Homo sapiens: one gene and its partners. The protein of the gene in region 3 purifies or fractionates together with the protein of the main gene of each other region. This does not show direct contact. Each region holds a gene or a part of one and is shown on either strand. Other genes may lie near its edges.

What was found. Proteins that work in one complex are often made in the same cells at the same time.
Region 1: the proteins of ACAA2 (region 3) and PREPL purify together in Homo sapiens (affinity purification with mass spectrometry; 3 studies listed by BioGRID and IntAct, with this or other methods). This does not show direct contact.
Region 2: the proteins of ACAA2 (region 3) and PGD fractionate together in Homo sapiens (co-fractionation; 3 studies listed by BioGRID). This does not show direct contact.

Annotation. Positions count from the first base shown.
Region 1 is NC_000002.12:44,336,942-44,344,584, forward strand, and holds part of PREPL (prolyl endopeptidase-like), read right to left. Parts: coding exon 7,579-7,643; intron 7,011-7,578; coding exon 6,804-7,010; intron 5,612-6,803; coding exon 5,476-5,611; intron 2,423-5,475; coding exon 2,206-2,422; intron 1,596-2,205; coding exon 1,410-1,595; intron 1-1,409. UniProt on the Homo sapiens protein: Serine peptidase whose precise substrate specificity remains unclear. Does not cleave peptides after a arginine or lysine residue. Regulates trans-Golgi network morphology and sorting by regulating the membrane binding of the AP-1 complex.
Region 2 is NC_000001.11:10,408,974-10,416,616, reverse strand, and holds part of PGD (6-phosphogluconate dehydrogenase, decarboxylating), read right to left. Parts: intron 5,200-7,643; coding exon 5,065-5,199; intron 3,556-5,064; coding exon 3,366-3,555; intron 1-3,365. UniProt on the Homo sapiens protein: Catalyzes the oxidative decarboxylation of 6-phosphogluconate to ribulose 5-phosphate and CO(2), with concomitant reduction of NADP to NADPH.
Region 3 is NC_000018.10:49,796,186-49,803,828, forward strand, and holds part of ACAA2 (3-ketoacyl-CoA thiolase, mitochondrial), read right to left. Parts: intron 6,669-7,643; coding exon 6,502-6,668; intron 1,410-6,501; coding exon 1,281-1,409; intron 1-1,280. UniProt on the Homo sapiens protein: In the production of energy from fats, this is one of the enzymes that catalyzes the last step of the mitochondrial beta-oxidation pathway, an aerobic process breaking down fatty acids into acetyl-CoA.

The sequences.
Region 1 (7,643 bases), on a different chromosome or scaffold from region 3:
AAAACTAGCTTCCTGCCCCTTACTTCTTTTTGGTTTAGTGTATCCTAATATGGCTGCCACTCCTCAAACCATTCCCCTGCTCAAAAACTTCAAATGTTACCTTTCATAATTAATAAATTCCTCATATTGACACTCACAAAAAGTCAAATCATGACTTCATCCCCCAGAAATGTATAGCGCTTTAATAAAACAGAATAATTAACAGTTTCCTGAACATTTTCTGAATGTCAGAGCATACAGCTTCATTTGATGGCTTTCTCATCTTGGAATACCATCCCCTCTCCACCTGTCAAAATCCTATCTCTCTTCTCTGGTTTATTTCACATTCAACCAACTTTACCAAAAGCTTTCCTGGGCCTTCTTCTCTAGTTTGAGCCCCACAGCACATTTTATGTTTTTGATACTACTTATTCAAATCCATGATACACTTAACCTTTATGTACTAGTTTAATCTTGTGATTAACTATATCTTCCTTAAGGCTAGGATATTCTGCTTTAACAGCTTTCGATTCTATAATGCCCGATACAGTATTGTGCACATGAAAGTTCAATAAAAAGCCACTGAATTGACTGAAATTGCATTTTTACAGGAGTTTTAAGAATATTGGAGTTAGGGAGGTATAAATGGTCTATGCTGTTTGCTCATCAACTGGCTCAGTAACTCTTTTCATATCAAACAAAATGGAAGCCATCCTCTTCCCTTCAGTGCCTACTACCTCAACTCACATGTTAATGCTGCTTTAAAACTAGGCAATAAGGTTGTCATTCACCAATTTTAGGAAGTTCACTTGTGAAGGCAGGTTATCTTTCCTGGTAGCCACAAGCAGTATCAACTAGTCAGCTTGCCAAGCAGTCTTGCCACTATTAGCCTTCTGTGCTGCTGTGGAGACCACTGCTACTCCTACACTGAAAGAAACCAAAGTTTGTTCCCTGCATCCCCTGCGGATAAGAAAACTGGCAGACAGAAGATGATGCAGACAAAAGCATGTAGTGGCTAAAAACACAGTGGATACCACTACTGTCCCTGTTGGGGATGTGGGATGGGGGAACAGCAGTCAGTGTTTAGGCACTAGCTACCAACTTTGGCCTGAGTTTTTACTATATCTCAAGTTGCAGAGATATGTGAGGTAGAGAGATATACAGAAAGAGAAATATTAGCACTCAACTCTACTTGTGAAGTCCATGCCATAAGACACTATCTTAAGTAAAACTGCATAAAAAGCAAGATCCTCTAAGTAATTCTAAGATAACCCTCCTAAACCCAAGAGTGACTTTGCTAAATTCCATTTAAGTTACATTCCTTTCAAGAAAAAGAACACTGCTGCCACTATTCAAAATGTGATGTTCTGTTAAGCTAAACTGCATAAATATTTTGATTAACAGTATTAACTTCTGAAAATTAAACATACCTTTAGAGACCGAACTGAATCATCAGCCAGACCAATCACATTAACATAAAGGAGATTGCTGTGCTTCAGAAATAGAACACAGTGATCCTTAAACATGTCCAAGTCTATCACTTTTGTATTTCTCTTCATTGTAAAAAATAAATCCCAATTCATAATTGCAGGGGTATCAGCCGCTGTTCTCATTAGCTACGTGGAACAAAGTTAGAAGACATATAGGTAAGAAAACACGAAGGCTGCAGCATCCAGAGATGCAATCACTGAGAACTAGACCATACTAGTCCTCACTGTTTTATGAAGAGCTGAAGGAACTAACGCTGCATCAGGGATAAAGTGTGACCATCAACCATATGAATGAGTCCTGACTAGCCTGCTGGGTGGTGAGACAGTATATCCAGTGCTTAGCCAACCACTGGACATTTGAGTGAGGGCACTGACAGCTAGCTGACTACAGATACATCAGTGAGCTTAGCTGATATCAGCAGAAGAACTGCCTAGCTGAGATCAATCCAAATTGCCAACTCATAAAATCACGAGTTTGTAAGTTTGCTCTTTTAAGCTACTAAGTTTGATTTTGTTAACATAAACTCAGGACAGAATATGTTTTATTTACTAACTTTTTAGGCACAATTAAAATATGTAGAGGCATTAGCTCTAAGGGAAAAGAAATGGGATTGGTTATACATAGGAAGGTGGCATCAATTTATAAAACAATGAGCTCTTGGAGCAAGAAATGTTGTTGATCGAAGTGTGACACTTCTTAACAGCCCAAATAGGAACAACGAGCATCCAGGATTACCTTAAATTCTGTAGGTTCTCCAACATTAGTGAGAATGTATAATTCATCATCTCTGTGTTCAACATAGTAAAGGACCCCATGTATTCGCTTCTGGATAAGTACTGGTGGGTCCCAAGGGCTCAGGCCATCTATCAACCACACTTCAGAAGTAGTCTTGTTCATAATATTTATGGTGAGGAAACGACTGTCTTTTGTAAGATAAAGGAAAACAAAGTAGCTAGAGAGAGAGAGAGAGACATGAGATCACAGTTTATTTCAGATGCATGCTACCTTGTTAAGGACAGTATCTCAGAGGTGGTCAGTATACATGTTGATTTATAATGCAGATAGGAAATTAAAATAATTCCTTAGTGAATATCACTTGTAACTTTAACAATTAGCTATTATTTTTCTCATTTTCTCCTAAAGGGCATTCAAAATAATTTACTTCTAACATTTTATCATAAATGTTTTTCAAAAATACAGAAAAGTTGAAAAAACCATCTTGATTCCATCATTGCTAACATTTTGCTACATTTACTTTATTACATATCTATGCACCTATTAATCCATCTTTATTTGGATGCATTTCAAGGTAAACTACAAACGTCATTTCTCAATCACATGAGTAGATAACATAGCTTTTTGCTGAGAAGAGGAAATAAACTTTCTATAGGAGACACAAATAGGGAATAAAAGGGACACGGAGTTATTTTTATTTTCTTCTTTCTCTGCATGCATTTTGGATTTTTTTTTCCTTTCTCCCAGTTTTTACAACAAAATAGAATAGGAAGAAAACCCCTCACAATCTTACTAACGTAACACATTTAAAACATTAACATAGCTATTTTACTTTTTAAATTTTTCCTTCTAAGTTATATTTATATTTCATGTGTGTCTTTAAATAGATGTAATTATAGATACAATTTTTGATTCTGTATTTCTTACTTCATATATCAATTTTCTCCCTACATGAGTTGAAAGTCTTTGTGATTATTATTTTTAAAGGCTACCTAATATTATAACAGGTTTAATGGCTACCTAATATATCATAATTCTTAAAAATTTAGATTTTAATGTTTCATTATAATAAACAATATAACAAGAAACATATTCATGAAGATATTTTCCCCTTCCATGATCTTCACAATTATTTTCCCAAGACAAATTTTTAGAAATGGAAATACTAATTTAATAAGTGTATTTTTATGACTTGATGAATATAATCAAATAATATCCTAGAAGCACTATACTAACATAATGAGTGGCTTTAAATGTTATATTTATATTTTTCCTTATTATAAAAGTAATTTATACTGAAACTACTGAAAAACGTAAAGAATCCCAATGCCCCCAAATAACAACTGCTTATAGTTTGGTAAAATTTCTTCTGTATTGGATCACATTACCATGTTTATTTGTCAATCGTTATTTCTTTTGTGAAATGTGTGTCTATTTTAAACTTTGAATGTAGCTTAAATTATTAGTATGTAAATAGCTCTTTAAAAATTAAGAATATTGGCTGGGCACAGTGGCTCACAACTGTAATCCCAGCACTCTGGGAGGCCAAAGCTGGCAGATCACCTGAGATCAGGAGTTCAAGACCACCCTGGCCAACATGGTGAAACCCCGTCTCCACAAAAAATACAAAAATTAGCCAGGCATGGTGGCAGGTGCCTGTAATCCCAGCTACTTGGGAGGCTGAGGTAGAAGAATCACTTGAACCTGGGACGCAGAGGTTGCAGTGAGCTGAGATTGCGCCACTGCACTCCAGTCTGGGTGACAGAGTGAGACTCTGTTTCAAAAAAAAAAAAAAAAAATTAAGAACATTAACTTGTCTTTTTGTTGAAAACACTTTCCTCCATTTTGTTACCTAGATTTTAACTATTTACAATAGTTTTTGTGGTTTTTGACTTGAGTTTAATATTTTACGTAATCGAGACTGCTACTACCCTTTGTAATTTCTTATATTGATTTTATGTTTCAAAAATATTCCAACCAAGCTGACTAAAAAGCTTATATTTTCATCTTATTAAAAAATTATTTTTCTCAATGGGTTCTTTAAATCTCTTAGGAATGTATGCTGACATATACAATGATGAAAATTATTTTTTCCCAAATAGTATTTCCCATTGCATTATAAAATAACACCGATTCATTTTTCATTAGTTTGTGATGCCTTTTATCATATAAATTTTCACATAGACTAGGATCTATGTTTTAGAGTTATTCTAAGCTCTATTATTTGTCTATCAATTTGTATTATTTTTACTGTTATTGCTTTATATGCTTTAATATATAATTGTAGGGCAAGTCCCCTACCCTACTTTGCTCTTTATTTTCAACACTTTCTTCGCTGTTTTTATATATTTTTGTTTGCTTAGTTTGGTGATGACAAATTAAAAATAAACTACTTGACCAAATAGTTGTTAGATATGTGGTTACAGGAAGTGAGAACACAAGTGGCTCTAGGGTAAAATGTGTCTAAGAGAATATACGAAATATAAAGAACTAGACATTAATCTTTTTTTCCAATTATTTCTATCGACAATTATTTTTAAATTTAAAATGTATTATAAAAATAATAATGCTTATTACAAAAAGAAAAAAAGAAAAGTAAAAAAAAAACCATTGTTAGTACTTTGGGTGTATTTCCTTTCAATCTTTTAAAAATGCATCTTTTTTCCTTGATACCCAATTGAAACCATAGCATATATTTAATTTTTTCACCTAGCACAATAATACATTTTTGAGTTAGTTTTAATTTATAATTTAGTAGCAACACATACTTTAAATTCTTCTATATATTACTAAGAATTTAATGGTTAAAAGGTACTCAACAATCATCAGGAACAAGGGGTTTTAGTTTGAAAGAGAGATACCTATCTAAGTATATACCATTTATTTAAGCAATAGATACTGACTAAATAGCACTATACAAACCTGGCACCCTGCTTATCAATTAAGATGCAAAGGTGAAACAGACTCAGTCTGTTCACAATCTAGCAGTTCTAGGTCATCTTTATGAATTTACATGAATGAACTATGTTGTAATTCACAAAATCAATTTCAGTTTTTAATAAAATATTAGTGATATATCTGTATTTACTCTGATTTTGAATATTACCAGACTCCAATTTTGAATACAAACAACTAATAAAAGAATGATCGTTTTAGCCTTATTATTCCTGGTTCCAACCAAAATAAACGTTTTAAGTCAACCAAAGTCAGTACTTTAAATAACTGGAGGAAGGTTCTGGAGAGAAAGATTTAATTATATTATTCTAGTACCTTGGGTCTTTTTCTGTGTAAAAGCGTTCATTACGTTTGTTATCACCAAAAGTGGCTCGATATACGTCATGACAGCGAAGGTTCCTCTGGAAGGTGTAGAATAAAACATCTTCATCTTCCTCGTCCTTTACCCATTCTGAAAGAAAATAATGAGATAATTATACATAATCACCTACACTCCATTAAAAAAAAAAAAAAAGCACAGCACATTCTAATTTTGAATGCCAGTGAGAACATGTGCAAGTTTATCCCTGGAAATCTAAATATTTGACTGTATCTAATCTGTGCTGTATATAAGCCAGAGAGCTTTCCTGAGAATAAACCACTACTACACCATTCCAAGGTTTCAAGTAGTTATCAGTCTCAGGGTACTCAGGTTTCTAAATAAGAGCTAAATGCTCAATATTTAGGAAAGACATTGGTAAAGTCACATTTGCTTTTAGGAGGTGAATTCCGTCTCAATCTACAACTTGAAACTGTAAGTCTGAAGGAATATTGCATCTTTCTCTCATGTGTAAACCTTCTCTGTCTGCTTTCAAGCCACAGGATATCTCCAACTACCAAACACAATTTAATGCTGATTCTTGATCCCACCAGAAGCTGTCAACAGAAGTTTGCACACAATTACACCATGACTGCCACCTGGCTGACAGTGATTGTAAGTCATCATTGTATAATATGCACCATGATTTTAAAGGTTATAAAATGTACAAAATATATGTCTTAGAATTCAATAGTTAGGGTATAATTTCAATTCACTGCAACAACATTTAGTTAAACAATGGAGAAAATGATGGCTGAAAATGAAAAGGGAGGACAAAATGTAACATATGTACCACTCAATGATAAATTTAAAGTTAGTTCTATTACTAAAAATGTCACAGCTTCCATTGATAAACAGGTTAGTTCAACACATACCAAGTTCTTTGGTAGTGACTTTATGCTGTAACAGCTCTATAAGATAACATGAAATTAAAAAAATACATTCAAGCTTAAAGTTGAATAAAATATTAAGATGCAACTTACGTGTAAAAATTTATTCTAGATAATAATTTGGCAAATAATTCTGATAAATCAAAACATATTGTATGACATGGACTCTAATTATAACACTTTTAAAAACATGAGTATTTTAAAATTACCCATCTAGATATATAATTAAATAAGGGAAGGTCTCCTGAATAAGAGGTACATAGGAAGATGTATAGTCCATAGGGATACATGAATCAGGCATTCACCTTCTCCCTCCCTCACATGCGACAAAAAAATGTTTCAAAAGTGTTACCGTTGCCTTTCAACACAGAGGACTATTTTGGTTGGTGGCTTACCAAAACTGGACACATTCGGGAAAGAAGCTTCCATTACGGGCTGATCGCTGAGCTTTATAATTACACAGGTAGATGCTTCAGAATCTTCAGTTCTTATCTTGGCAGCCACATATTTTTCATCTGGAGCAACTCTGATACAATCAATGAAGGGCTGGTCTAACTTAAGTTCCTCCAAATTGAATAAAACTTCATAATTATCATTGTCTGCTGTATAAAGAAAAATACGAAAGTGATAACTTCAAAGGATGTACTTTAAAAAATTAAAACTGTATTTTAATGTTTTAAATTAGAATTCCCATTCTGTAAGAGGCCATATCCTAGCTTCTTTCAACAATGATGGCAGCTTAACTTGCACATCAACTGACAATAAGTTATTTAATATTACCTTATACTATTCAATACTATTCTGTGCATCAACCTATGAGACATTATTTGATATTGTTATAGTCTAGTTTAGTATTTACAGACCATACAGAACCTAGAAAGTAAGTGAATATAAATGACAATCAACAATATATGCCAAGTGCCTAGCATAGTACCCAAGACACAGCAGATGCTCAAAAAATGCTGGATGCCGTCTCCATTCTCCCTGCCAAAGCTTCTGAGTCTAACTATATCTTACACAAACCCAGATATTAAAAACTAGTCATTAAAAAAAAATTCAGAAATAATCTTTAAAAAAATCTTTTCTCTATCTTTGAGAAATTAATAAATTTCCTATAAAAAATATGAAATCTGAAAATTAGAGCACGTAAAAAGAAAAATTGTGGTGTACCTTCTTCATCTTTGGAACGAACCAAGCAACAACCTTCTTGGTAATAAACAAAACCACCATGTTTA
Region 2 (7,643 bases), on a different chromosome or scaffold from region 3:
TCTTCGGACTCAACCTGCCTGCACCCAGGTGATTAAAAAGCTTTATTGCTCACACAAAGCCTGTTTGGTGGTCTTTTCACACGGATGCGCATGAAAATTACCAAAGTTCGCACAGCAACCAGAAGAAAGGTGGAGCAGGAAAGTCTGTTTATACAAAGAGCTGAAAGTTTCAACCTTAGGCCACAAAAGTTGACATGGATCGGAAGGAACTTTTATAAGAAGCTCTAAACAGTTAATTTGATAACTAAAACTCTTAAGACAATCTTCCAATACAAACATGAGTATTCAATCACAAAGATTAACATGAAATTCAAAAGGGAGTTTTGAGGGAAAATGAAGAGATAGAAACCACTGTTATGGCTGGGCAAGGTGGCTAACACCTGTAATCCCAGCACTTTGGCAGGCTGAGGTGGGAGGATCACTTGAGCCCAGGAGTTCAAGGCTACAGTGAGCCATGATCACACCACTGCTCTCCAGCCTGGGCAACACAGTGAGACCCTGTCTCTAAAACCAGTAAAATAAAATAAAAACCACTGTTATGTAGAATACTCAGTGTTGGTCCATGAGTAAAATTTCAAATTCAATTTAGAGGACCTTAATTTTTTTTTTTGAAGATTTTACATTGATAAGTCACATTTACGGACTCACCTCTCAAAAAAATGTTAGGTTTTTATATTTTACGGTTTTCAGTATAGCCGTAATCATTCAAGTTTAACCACTTTACTTCATTTGAATTAAAAAGTCAATGTAGTATTTTAATATTAAGACATTTAGTATTTTCAGAAAGTATTCCTTATAAAAGACTTGCTCAACTGACAACTTATAGTTAGAATAAATGACTCTTTAACCACTTTTTCCCCCATAGACAAAATGAAGTAAAATCTCAGGGAACTAACAGAGGACTTTATTTCTGAGGAAAGAGGAGCAGCTATGGCTTGAGACTGCTAACCCTACTCCAAACACACAAAAGCAGCTACCTCTCTCCTGGCCCAAATGCACACACAGGATGACTTAGCATTTCTAGAAGGAAGCTTTGTAAGATGACTGGTGCAACAGGCTATGAGGCAAACCCTTCCTGTTAGAGGGGGAGAGGGCAGCTGGAAGACTTCCCTGTTAGTTCACAAATAATGATGGCTCCCAGCAGGGGGTGGGCCCAGCCACCCTGGGGGAAGAGGTATATGGATCCACAGGAGGAGAGTAGGATTCTGAGATCCTAATACTTACACATATACTTGAGTCCGTGATGAATAAATTGCTCCTAGCTATTGGCCCCTCCCTCCTCACCTATGTTATGGCTCAGATCGGCTAAAAGCAGCCAACTTCCTTCTATACAGCACGGAACTGTAGAAACCACCGACTTTCCTCCTTACTCTGCCTTACACCACACAGTTCAATAGGGCGAGGCACAATGAACAGGGAGGTCAAAAGGGGAGAAGAGTCAAGGGAGAGAAAGGCAACCTGTATCCAGAGGAGCAAACAGGAAAAATTCTGTTTTATTATTTTTGAGATGCTTCTTTTTTTTTTTTTAGGCGGAGTCTTGCTCGGTCGCCCAGCCTGGAGTGCAGTGGTGCGATCTCAGCCCACTGCAAATTCCGCCTCCCAGGTTCAAGTGATTCTCCTGCCTCAGCCTCCTGAGTAGCTGGGATTACAGGCACGGGTCACTATGCCTGGCTAACTTTCGTATTTTTAGTAGAGATGGGGTTTCGCCATGTTGGTCAGGCTGGACTCAAACTCCTGACCTCGTGATCCGCCCACCTCGGTCACCCAAAGTGCTGGGATTACAGGCGTGAGCCACCGCGCCTGGCCCAATTCTGTTTTAATATAGTGAGAACAATCTGCCAGAAGCAAAGATCAGCCTCTCATTAACCACGAGAGGCATCCTTCGTTCTCCTTTTTCATTCCTGCCAGAAGTCTATGTATTTTACTCTTAGAACCACCTTTGCTGGGCATGGTGGCTCACGCCTGCAATCCCAGCACTTTTGGAAGCCGAGGCGGGCAGATCCCCTGAGGTTAGGAGTTCGAGACCAGCCTGACCAATATGGTAAAACCCCGTCTCCACTAATAACACACAAAAATTAGCCAGGCATGGTAGCGCATGCCTGTAATCCCAGCTACTCGGGAGGCTGAGGCAGGAGAATCACTTGAACCCGGGAGGTGGAGGTTGCAGTGACCCGAGATCATGCCACTGAACTCCAGCCTGGGTGACAGAGCACAACACCGTCTCAAAAAACAAACAAACACACTGAAAACCACCCCCCCGGCCAAGATTTTGATATTGTTAATCCCCTCTCGTTTTATGTTTATTTCTTTATATTATTTCCTTATCTTTCTGAGTTTGATGCTTAGCTCACTAATGTAAGATATAAAACAAGTGGGCAGGATACACACCAACTTCAGGATAGTGGCTTTCTTCTAAAAGAGGAAGGAGAAGGAACTTAGCAAAACAACGAGGACTCAAATGGATAGGTAATTTTTATCTTTTTAATATCTAGGGGAAAAAAGTAAATTTTTAATAATTTCTGAGTACACAAGCATATGTTATTCGCAAACTTTTTTTGGAGGGGATGGAGTCTCATTCTGTTGCCCAGGCTGGAGTGCAGTGGCATGATCTTGGCTCACTGCAACCTCTGCCTCCTGGGTTCAAGCGATTCTCATGGCTCAACCTCCTGAGTAGCTGGGATTACAGGCACCTGCTAATTTTTTTTTTTTTTTGAGACGAAGTCTCGCTCTGTCACCCAGGCTGGAGTGCAGTGGTGCCATCTCAGCTCACTGCAAACTCTGCCTCCCAGGTTCAAGCAATTCTCCTGCCTCAGCCTCCTGAGTGGCTGGGACTACAGGCACGTGCCACCACACCTGGCTAATTTTTTGTATTTTTAGTAGAAACAGGGTTTCATCATGTTAGCCAGGATGGTCTCAATCTCCTGACCTCATGATCCACCCGCCTCGGCCTCCCAAAGTGCTGGCATTACAGGCGTGAACCACTGTGCCCGGCCCTGTTATTCATGAACTTTTCTATGAAAAATTTTACTCAAGTTACCTGCCTCATAAATAAAATCTTAGATCACTGACTACAATTACATCACTAATGCTAAAATATTCCAAAGATAAAACTGGATAGGAAGGACAGTCACTTCTGAATTTACCTCACAGTTTGTACGAATGAGATAAGAACTACAAGGAAGAGAATCAAAAGCAGCGTCAGCCTCTCTCACACTGTCAGTTTCTTCAACGCAAGAAAGAGCAAAAGGCACTCTGAAAGCTAAAGAGGGCTGAAGAGATTCTCTAAAGACCAGTCTGTATCTGTCCTCCAGACATCAAGATCAGAATAGTGGACGAAAGGGCCCATGTGAAAAGCATAACATTACCAATGAGGGTGACGGGTACGCCGTATTCCAGGGCGGAGATGGCGGTCCACTTCCCTGTGCCCTTCTGCCCCGCGCTGTCCCTGATCTTTGGCAGCAGGTGTTTGCCATCGGTGTCTTGGAACTTGAGAATATTGGCTGTGATTTCAATCAGGAATGAGTCTAGCTCTGTCTTATTCCAATCCTCAAAGGCCTACATGCAGAACACAGGAGAGAACCATGTTAGAGGAATGAGGGCTGAGCAAGGAAGCCCCTTGTCCAATGTCCACGCTGACCAATGCTCACGGTTGCCAGCAGGCTCTGCTCGCGTCTGCCTGGGGACTTCTGCTCCTGCTGGTTGAGTTTTATGCTAACCCAGAGTCAGTTGTGTTTGTTCTGAACCTGGTTATACTGAATTTCTGGCCACCAGAAGTGTTGTCTCCTCAGAGGCAAGGGCTCCTCACTTCACTTAGGTCTCTGTGCAGTGTCGCCTCCTCAGAAGCCTTCTGCAATCACCGGATCTTGTCCCAGTTTACTCTTCGTTCTCACAGTCATCGCTAACTAGTTTGATATTGTATATTTATTTCTGTCTGTCTTCCCAGCTCCGGGAGGGCAGGCACTTTGCTTTCTTCACTAGTATATCCCCAGCATTTAGAATCATGCTTGGCATATAGTAAAGCACTCGTGTGTTTGCTGAGTGAACACGTTAAGTATTATATATACCAATAAAAAATGAACACAAAAAGAATAGCACTGTTTCTGTGAAAGAAAACTAAGGTAATGTTTTAGAAAGAACAATTAACAGCAATCCAGTGAAACAAACAATAGTCAAAGTAAGTGAGGATGACATGAATAAAAAACTAGGAGGAAAACAACAAAAAATCTGGAAAGCTATACTGTATGCCTTGCTAGAGTCTGTAAATCACATCCCATTGGAAATAACTGAAACTAGAAATTCTAGATGGTAAGACACGACTAGAAAGCGCATCAGCAAACCATACTTAACGAGAAGGCCTTGGCCCTCCAAAAAATGGCGGGTGAATGAAAGTCCTTTCCTATGTTTTCAGTTAAAATCTATGTTTACCTCATGATAAAGATACATTCATCTAAAGTATTTAGGGAAAACAAAAGTATGGATACCTGCAGTTTACTTTGAATGTATCCAAAAAATAAGATGAAATTGGTGGGGGATGGACAGACATTGCTAAAGCAAGTACAGGAACCTGTGGATGGGAGAAAGGAGGAGGTGTGTATCCAGGTGTTCACTGTAAAACTCTCAAACTTCTGTGCTGCATGGTTGAATATTGTCATAATAAAATGTTGGGGGAAATGCTTCAGCTTCCCTACTTGGACTGACTTTTCAGATTAACTATCAAAAAGCCAATCCCAACTTGATCAGGAAAGAAAGCTTCTGCTGCATCTGCCATGTGGGACAACTGTGGGAGTAAATGGGACAGGTATGTGGAGTGACACAGTGCCTGACACCAGGTAAGCTACGCTAAATGGTGGTGATGATAACCACCCAGACTCTGTGGGGACTTTCTGCTTAGTGACTGACTAGCATAGTGTATAGGCCTATTACTAACAGTTTCCCTCAAATTAGGCTGAGTCCATGCAGGCCACCCGAATGGCCAAGGGGATAGGAATGAAGAAAAGATTCGGTGTCTGTGGCAAAGTGAGCACTCCCTGCAGAACGGACACAGAGGCAGTGCCGGGGCCTCACCTGGGCCATCTCGTCCTGCGCCATGCCCAGCACGTCTTTCATCAGGTGGTATGCCTCACAGATCAGCTGCATGTCCCCATACTCTATCCCGTTGTGCACCATCTTCACGAAGTGGCCTGCTCCCTCATCTCCCACCTGTCAGGACAACAAGCACCAAGAGGCCTTCAGAGAAACAGGCGACACATCAGAGAAGTCCACATCAGCTTTCATGCCAACATCCCTGGCAAGGCTACCTCTCCACACAAAAAATAACAAGTATAAAATGAGTACAGCATTTTTGATACAAGAATCATATAGCAATTCAAAGCAAGCTTCAGTCCAGTACAATATTATTTAACACTAATTCTAGACTCATTCTTCTCAAGGTTTCTCAAAGTCCCTGAATTCACTTTCAATACTTATGGCTCTCTAGCCTGTATTTTCTACTCTTTCTCATCATTCAAAGCAACTCCCCACCTTCCCAGCCCCCACCCACAAGAAAAAAAGTCCTCTTTTTCCCAAAGTTACCACTTTTCTAGCAACTAGAGGTTAAAATATATTGGCCAATTAAATCACTTGTTTTTTTTCAAAATATAAATGTATTGTAGTTGTTCCTAATGGCTACTGAAAAGTAAAATGACCCTAGATCCAAGGTCTCAACCTTGTAAGCCCAGAAAGGAGTCCCTCCAAGGCCCCATCATTATATTTATATTTATATTTATATTTATAAATAAAGACCAGATCTTTATTTATAAGCTGGCAAGATGTATAAAATCAGAATACCCGTTAATGAATGTAGGATGAAAACCTTAACTATGGATCTTCGTGGTTACAAATGTTAGTCCGGTCAACACATTCTGGCCCTATAGACAAGCAACTGGGAAGCCAGATTATCCGAAAATTATTTAGTTGTCAAGAACTGGAACAAAGGGAGTGACGAGAGCCAAACAGTTCATGGCATCAAACTCTCAGTCATCTACACCCAGCTCCATGACAGGGACACACCTGCCCAGGAGGCCAGGTGTTTGGATGACCTGGGCAGTCTCTCTCCTGGCTGTCACCACCTGGACCGTCAGTTGTATAACTGACGCTCACATCAGGACTCCATTGTCCGTGTTTCTTTTTTTTTTTTGAAACGGAGTCTCGCTCTGTCGCCCAGGCTGGAGTGCAGCGGTGTGATCTTGGCTCAGCACAACACCTGCCTCCTGGGTTCAAGCAATTCTAACGCCTCAGCCTCCTGATGAGCTGGGATTACAGGAGCACACCGCCACACTCAGCTAATTTTTGTAGACATGGAGTTTCACCATGTTGGCCAGGCTGGTCTCAAACTCCTGACCTCAGGTGATCCACTCACCTCAGCCTCTCACAGTGCTGGGATTCCAGGCATGAGCCACCACGCCTGGCCTTGTCCATGTTTCTATTGCTGCCCCTGCTGACTTCTGATTTTGACACTCTGGCCACAGAGTAACATGGCTGCTAACATCTTACTTCACCTTACCCTTCCTGCCACTTCAGCCATGAACTAAGGAGGGCCTGCTTGATCAACACACGTAGGGGCAAGGACTGTGCTTCTCTTCATGACTTTGTCCTAAGTGTGTGTATCTAAAAAAAAGTTGCAGGCTGGGTGCGGTGGCTCACGCCTATAATCCCAACACTTTGGGAGGCCAAGGTGGGCCGATTACTTGAAGTCAGGAGTTTAAGACCAGCTTGGGCAACATGGTGAAACCCCATCTCTACCAAAAATACAAAAATTAGCCAGGCATGGTGGCACATGCCTGTAATCCCAGCTACAATGGAGGCTGAGGCATGAGAATCGCTTGAACCCAGGAGGCGGAAGTTGCAGTGAGCTGAGATTATGCCACTGCACTCCAGCCTGGACGATAAAGCAAGACTGTCTCAAAAAAAAAAAAAAAAAAAAAAAAAAGTTGCTACCACTCACTTTTATTGCAGTGATCTTTTTGTTTTTTTCTGTTTAAGAGACAGGGTCTCTCTCTGTTACCCAGGCCAGAGTGCAGTAGTATGATCACTGCTCACTGCAGCCTTGAACTCGTGGGCTCAAGGGATCCTCCCAAAATACTGGATTATAAGCACGAGCCACTACACCCGGCCTTTTACCGCAGTAATCTACTGTCAGGGAACAGAGGTCCCTTTCCAATCCTTCACACTAATGAGAAGATTACTCAGCTCTTTACGTCAGTCCCAGCACCAGCCTCTTTCTACCCTAAGCAGATTCTGACTGAGCTCAATGGCCAACCACTGGTGAAAAGGTAAGGACAAGTGAGCTGCTGTGGCCAAAGCCACCAAGCACTGGCAGGCCTAGGAGGGAGGGCTTCCCGGATTCCTCAAAGGCCTGAGTCCTTATTTCAACCTCAGCATTGATTTCATATAAAATAAAATTGAATAATAAAATTCACATTAAAATTGCTGATATAAAATTAAAGGGAATCAGGAGCTGAAGAGAGCTTGGAGATCATGTAATCCAACCCCATATCTTACAGATAAGGAAACTGAAGTCCATGAAGGGACGTGGCTTGCCTGATGTCACAGTTAAGTTTATGGAAAGCCAGAACTGCCACTCAGGTCTCCTGAGCCTAATGCTT
Region 3 (7,643 bases):
TACCTGGCATAAATGTACAGCAGATAATAAAGGACATACCCTTTAAAAAGGCAAAAGAAAAATTTATCCCATTAATGGATGTATCTGAACAAGAACAGAGATTTACAAGAACTAGTTCAATCTAGGTGACTCATAAAAAGGAAACCACTTCATTCTTCCAACACTTTCCACTGTTTGCCTTTCTCAGAAAAGGAGCAAATAATGAGCCTCTATGAACCTGATGGTTCTTAAAATTATTACTAGGAAAACCGAGGTCACTATTTAAGATATATCGTTATAGAAACAAATTAATGTGAAAATTGTTTTATTAAAATACGCCTCTGGCTCTTATTTTGTTTGTAATAAAATGAAGACTTTTACAAATGAAATTGGATTTCACTTTCTTCTCTGTGCTCAAAGAAACAAATGTATTTAACCAACTGTCCTTTAAAAAGGTCAAACTAGTTTGTACTTCTACTAACAGCATCATTCACTTCCTTTGAAATAAAATACATTTCCTTATCCTCTCCTAAATTCTTGAGATTTCCTGCTTGCCTCACGGTCTTTATTCAGTGCCTCACAGGTAACACTCACAGACCTGGGTTCAAATTCTATGACTGAGTAACCTTAATGGCTTTAATCAGTTTCCTTGCCTGTAAAATGGGAATAATAATAATAGTTCTTGCTTCATAGGATGGTTGTAAGATTAAATGAGATATTGAATGTAAATCTAGCAGGGTGCCTAGCATGTAGGAAGCACTCGAAAGAATGATGAACATACTAGCTTTTAAAAATATTGAAGTATATATATATATATAATACTTACCATTTTAACCATTTTTAAGTATACAGCTCAGTAGTTTAAGTGTATTCATAGTGTGATGCAACCATTACCATCACCCATCTCCAGAACGCTTTTCATCTTGCAAAACTGAAACTCCATATCCATTAAACACTAACTTTCCCTCACCAGTCCCTGGGAACACCATTCTACTTTCTGTCTCTATGAATTTGACTACGCTAGGTATCTCAAAGAAGTAGAAACATACAGTATTTGTCCTTTTATGACAGGCTTATTCCACTTTCAGGTTCATTATTAGCTTTTTTTTTTTTTTCTTTTTTTTGGAGCCAAGGTCTCACTCTGTTGCCCATGGCTGGAGTGCAGTGGTATGATCATGGTTTACTTGACCTCCAGGGCTCAAGCAATCCTCCCTAAAGCTAAAGTGTTATATTGCAGTGGGACATTTCTTCTAGTAACTATTAACATATTTTCAGAGAATTTAAAAAAATGTTGTCCATACCTGACATCCATTCACAATGGACTGAAAACCAGAACCACAGAGCCTATTAATCGTGAGAGCTGGGGTCTCCTTTGGGATTCCCACACGCAAACCAACATGCCTTGCCAAATATATAGCATCTGAAGAACTCTAGAAGAGAGAAGGAAAAGAAAAATAATTTTCTCTATAAATCTACTAATTAAGAACAAGCACGAAATACATGGAAATGTTGGCAATCTATCAAAAATGATAAACTATATGGCTCTAAGGTAGGACAAAATGCATCTAAGTACAGCATATTATATCTAATATGTGTTTACAATTTGAATAAAAACTACAGTCAATTGGGTTTTTTTCTATTTTTTTATTGGGGCAAAATACACATAACAAAATGTATCATTGTAACCATTTTTAAGTGTATAGTTCAATGGTATTATTTAAATACATTCATAATGTTGTGTAACCACAGTCAATTGGTTTTCAAATATATTAAAGATAATTGCTACTTAGAGAAATCCCATTAAGTCCTTAATATAAGACAGAAATTTATAACAATTAGAGTTATTTAAAAATGGAATACGCTATCCTAAAGTAGTATGCTCCTTAACAGAGGAAGTATCGGAGGCTGTGGTTCTCAACCTTGGTTGCAGGCTGGAATAACCTAGGAAGCTTTATTAACATACTCATGCTTAAGTTCCTAAGCAAATCAATTAAACCAGAAAGGCTGGAGGTGGGGCCTGGGCATCAGTAGTCACTTTTAAAAAGCATCCCAAGTAATTCTAATGTAAAACAGGCTGAGGACTGCATACTTAGGGAGAAGACAGATGAATGATTGGTCAGGAGAGTAAGAGGTAGGAGTAGACCACCACTCCCAAAACTTTAAAATGCATATGGGGGCGTCTTGTTATAATAAAATGTAAGTTCTGAATCAACAGGTCTAGGTCTGCCGGAGATTCTGCATTTCTAACCATTTCCCTGGTGAAGCTGATGTTGCTAGTCCAAGAACCACACTTTGAATAAAAAGAATGACTTAAAAAAAAAAAACCAACAACAACCAAAAACATTAACAGCCTGTTTTGGAGGCTGTTAGCAAGAGCAAAAGCAAGTTTGACAAAATGTAAAACATTGGTCTATCAAGGTACGGGGTTTTAGGATGTTCATTGTACTATTCTTTTAACTTTTGTGTAGGTTTCAAGTTTTTCAAAACTTGACAAATTCGGCACATTTATAAGTTAAGGGTTTTGAATGCAGATGGAACTGGGAGGAACTCAGTATAACATCAATTAATCTACTAACTAAATGTTTCATCTGTTGACTGAGATGAAATTATCTTATTTTACAAATTAATGTCATTAAAAAAATTCTTGGCCAATGGATATTCTTTTGCCAAGGTTTGTCAAATATCACATATCAACAGAATAAAAAAAATTTACACGATCATCTCGTGTAAATTATTAACAGATAAATATTTGGGGTTAGGCCTTTATGGTTAAGAGAGAACAGAATATGCTTCGAATAACATTTGACAAATACCACAAAGCTGCTTTTCTAATTGAGTTTAATATTATTAAATATCACTTGGAATAAATGAGTTTTACTTATTTCTTAGGAAACAATGAAATCCAATGTGGATTTCAACACAAAAAGTCAACAGAAAAAGTATTTGACAAAATACAACACCCTTTCATGACAAAAACACTGAACAAACTAGGAACAGATGGCAACTTTCTCAATCTGACAAAGGGAATCTATAAAAAATCCACAGCTCTCCCTCTCCCCCTCCTCCTCCCCCTCTCCCCACGGTCTCCCTCTGATGCCTAGCTGAAGCTGGACTGTACTGCTGCCATCTCGGCTCACTGCAACCTCCCTGCCTGATTCTCCTGCCTCAGCCTGCTGAGTGCCTGCGATTGCAGGCACGCGCCGCCACGCCTGACTGGTTTTCGTATTTTTTTGGTGGAGACGGGGTTTCGCTGTGTTGGCCTGGCTGGTCTCCAGCTCCTAACCGCGAGTGATCCGCCAGCCTCGGCCTCCCGGGGTGCTGGGATTGCGGACGGAGTCTTGTTCACTCAGTGCTCAATAGTGCCCAGGCTGGAGTGCAGTGGCGTGATCTCTGCTCGCTACAACCTCCACCTCCCAGCCGCCTGCCTTGGCCTCCCAAAGTGCCGAGATTGCAGCCTCTGCCCGGCTGCCACCCCGTCTGGGAAGTGAGGAGCGTCTCTGCCTGGCCACCCATCGTCTGGGATGTGGGGAGCCCCTCTGCCTGGCTGCCCAGTCTGGAAAGTGAGGAGCGTCTCTGCCTGGCCGCCATCCCATCTAGGAAGTGAGGGGCGCCTCTTCCCAGCCGCCATCCCGTCTAGGAGGTGAGGAGCGTCTCTGCCCGGCCGCCCATCATCTGGGATGTGGGGAGCGCCTCTGCCCGGCCGCGACCCCATCTGGGAGGTGAGGAGCGTCTCTGCCCGGCTGCCCCATCTGAGAAGTGAGGAGACCCTCTGCCCGGCAACCGCCCCGTCTAAGTGAGGAGCCCCTCCGCCCGGCAGCCACCCCATCTGAGAAGTGAGGAGCCCCTCCGCCTGGCAGCCACCCTGTCTGGGAAGTGAGGAGCGTCTCCGCCCGGCAACCACGCCATCCGGGAGGGAGGTGGGGGTCAGCCCCCACCAGGCCAGCCGCCCCGTCCGGGAGGGAGGTGGGGGTCAGCCCCCGGCCGGCCAGCCACCCCGTCTGGGAGGGAGGTGGGGGGTCAGCCCCCCGCCCGGCCAGCCGCCCCGTCCGGGAGGTGGGGGGGTCAGCCCCCCGCCCGGCCAGCCGCCCCGTCCGGGAGGGAGGGAGGTGGGGGGGTCAGCCCCCCGCCCGGCCAGCCGCCCCGTCCGGGAGGTGAGGGGCGCCTCTGCCCGGCTGCCCCTACTGGGAAGTGAGGAGCCCCTCTGCCCGGCCACCACCCCGTCTGGGAGGTGTGCCCAGCAGCTCATGGAGAACGGGCCATGATGACCGTGGCGGTTTTGTGGAGTAGAAAGGGGGGAAAGGTGGGGAAGGGATTGAGAAATCGGATGGTTGCCGTGTCTGTGTGGAAAGAAGTAGACATGGGAGACTTTTCATTTTGTTTTGTACTAAGAAAAATTCTTCTGCCTTGGGATCCTGTTGATCTGTGACCTTACCCCCAACCCCGTGCTCTCTGAAACATGTGCTGTGTCCACTCAAGGTTAAATGGATTAAGGGCGGTGCAAGATGTGCTTTGTTAAACAGATGCTTGAAAGGCAGCATGCTTGTTAAGAGTCATCACCACTCCCTAATCTCAAGTACCCAGGGACACAAACACTGCAGAAGGCCGCAGGGTCCTCTGCCTAGGAAAACCAGAGACCTTTGTTCACTTGTTTGTCTGCTGACCTTCCCTCCACTATTGTCCTGTGGGCCAAATCCCCCTCTGCGAGAAACACCCAAGAATGATCAATAAAAAAAAAAAAAAAAAAATCCACAGCTATCATCATATGTAAAGTTGAAAGGCCAGATGCTTTCCCCCTATAATCAGGAATAAGACAAAGATATCCATTTCTTATAACTTCTATTCAACATTGGAGATTCTAGCCAGGGCAATTAGGGAAGAAAAAGAAATAAAAAGAATCCACATTGGATTTCATTGTTTCCTATGAAATAAGTAAAACTCATTTATTCCAAGTGATATTTAATAATATAAAACTCAATTAGAAAAGCAGCTTTGTGGTATTTGTCAAATGTTATTCGAAGCATATTCTGTTCTCTCTTAACCATAAAGGCCTAACCCCAAATATTTATGTTAAGCACTTAACATCCTTACAAGAAAACTCTATCTTGGCCTGACAGAAAACTTAACACAAGAAAAACTGTCTTTAGGAACAGAGGCACAAACACAATGAAACTGATACTATTTATAGTGACTTTGTGTTATAAAGTTTGAGAGAATACATGCTGGGAAAAAAATATTTTTCCTTCAAAATTCTAGAAAACGCAAAAAACGGAAGTATCCAATTTCTATTCAATCTGTTCTAATGCCTTCTTAGGTCAGAGGTAAAAGTTACAAAATAAAATAAAAAGAACAAAAGACAATATTGAGAATTCTTTATGAAAATATTTTAGGTTCAACAGACATAACTGCCAAAGGAAAAAAGTCACTGCTTTTTCTGGATGTGAAGATACACAACGGCAAGATGAACAGCATCAAGTTCAAATGCAAGGCCTAGTGACTTCTGTGTCCATTGTCATTCTCTTTCCTTTAGCAATGATCACATCATTGACATCTTTAAATATATGTATCATATATATATTTGTGTGTGTATATATGATACATAAGATATATCACAGAAACTGATCATATATATATATATATATATATATATATATCTTATCTTTTTCATTAGATTATTACCTCCTTTTGGTCCACCTTGGGTGCCATAGCACCTATAATAGCCTCTAACTAGGTATCCAACAAATGTTTGTATACTTTAAAGGAATTCTGAATTTTCAATTACCTGCATATGAATGATTGATTTTGTACATCACACATAGCAAGACAGAGGGTAAGGAAGCATCTTATTTCTTACAACAAACACTGATCAAGCTCCTACAATGTGTAAGAAAATTAGGGGAGGTGTGCTGTAATGGCTTGGGTTTACTAAGGTGGCATATAGAGAAGATCAATTAACTTCAAGTAAGCCAAGGAAGTCAATCTGCTATTTAGGAAGCACTGAAATGCATCCCAAGTCAGACATACAGTTTCTAGAACATATGATGCTTTGAATTATGCATGCTGTTGATTCTGGAGTCACAGAATTACTCAAATTACAAACGTATAAAGTCTGTAACTATTGGCTGGGAGTGGTGGCTCACGCCTGTCATCCCAGCACTTTGGGGGGCCGAGACAGGAGAATCACGAGGTCAAGAGATCGAGACCATCCTGGCCAATGTGGTAAAACCCTGTCTCTATTAAAAACACAAAAATTAGCTGGGCTTGGTGGCACACGCCTGTAATCCCAGCTACTCGGGAGGCTGAGGCAGGAGAATTGCTTGAACCCGGGAGGCGGAAGTTGCAGCGAGCCAAGATCGCACCACCATACTCCAGCCTGGCGGCAGAGCGAGACTCCATCTCAAAAAAAAAAAAAAAAAGTCTATAACTATTATTAACTTGTTTACCATTATGATATGTTAAAGGAATTATTTTTAGAAACTGATCAAAGAAGCAATAGGAGTGAACACCTTCCTTTACTCTACTAACCTGCAGGACATTGCCCATAATCACACTGTCAACTGTTTCAGGTGAGACTTTGCCAGCAGACAAGGCAGCCTTGGCAGCAAATTCAGACAAGTCAGTAGCAGTGAAGTCTTTCAGAAGGCCTCCGTAAGCTCCAAAGGGCGTTCGCTTAGCAGCAACTACAAACACACCTATTGCAACAAGAAGAGATTTGTAAGCCATCACAGGTTAGTAAATACCTCTAAATGCTTCGAATAATCTCACTGTGAAACCTTACACAATTTAAAATTAGATAATGGAAATTTCTGTTAGGCAATAATACCTAGAACAAGTCATACCCATGGAAGCAGAGTCTTAAGGACTACCAGTTTGACAGTTTGATCTTTACCTACATGCAGGTACCAAGAACTGCACTGCATGCTGTTAAGGAAGAAGACCACCACTTCTCCTGCGCACCCCGCCCCCCTTGCCTAGTTTATAAAACAGGAGGAAAAGAAAAAAGCAAAAAGTTAAAAAGAAACAGAAGTAAGATAAATAGCCAGATGGCCTGGTGCCACCACCCGGCCCTGGTAGTTAAAATAATAATAATAATAATAATAATAATAATAATAATAATAATATCAATCCCTGACCTAAACTACTTGTGTTATCTGTAATTTCCAGACATTGTATGAAAAAGCATTGCAAAACTTTCTGCTCTGTAAGCTAATGCATGTAGCCCCCAGTCACGTTCCCCACACTTGCTTGATCTATCACCATCCTTTCAGGTGGACCCCTTAGAGTTGTAAGCCCTTAAAAGGGCCAAGAATTTCTTTTTGAGGGAGCTCGGCTCTTAAGACGCAAGTTGGTGGATGCTCCAAGCCAAATAAAGCCTCTTCCTTCTTTAATCCAGTGTCTGAGGAGTTTTGACTGTGGCTCGTCCTGCTACACTGTGATGTAAAGCCATTCTGGTTAGACAACTTTCTTGTTCTCTGATGCTTCACAATGCTAGAAACATATGTTGAGAACTAAAATCCTTCTTCTATGTGCTGGAGTATATTGCCTAGTATTAGAATAAAAGAATCTCCAAACTAGAAGGTGCCTTAGGGTTGTCTGAGGTCAACCACTCACTCTATAAGAACTACCTCTAAAAATTCCTGACAAAAGGTTCTCTCTAAACCTCTGCC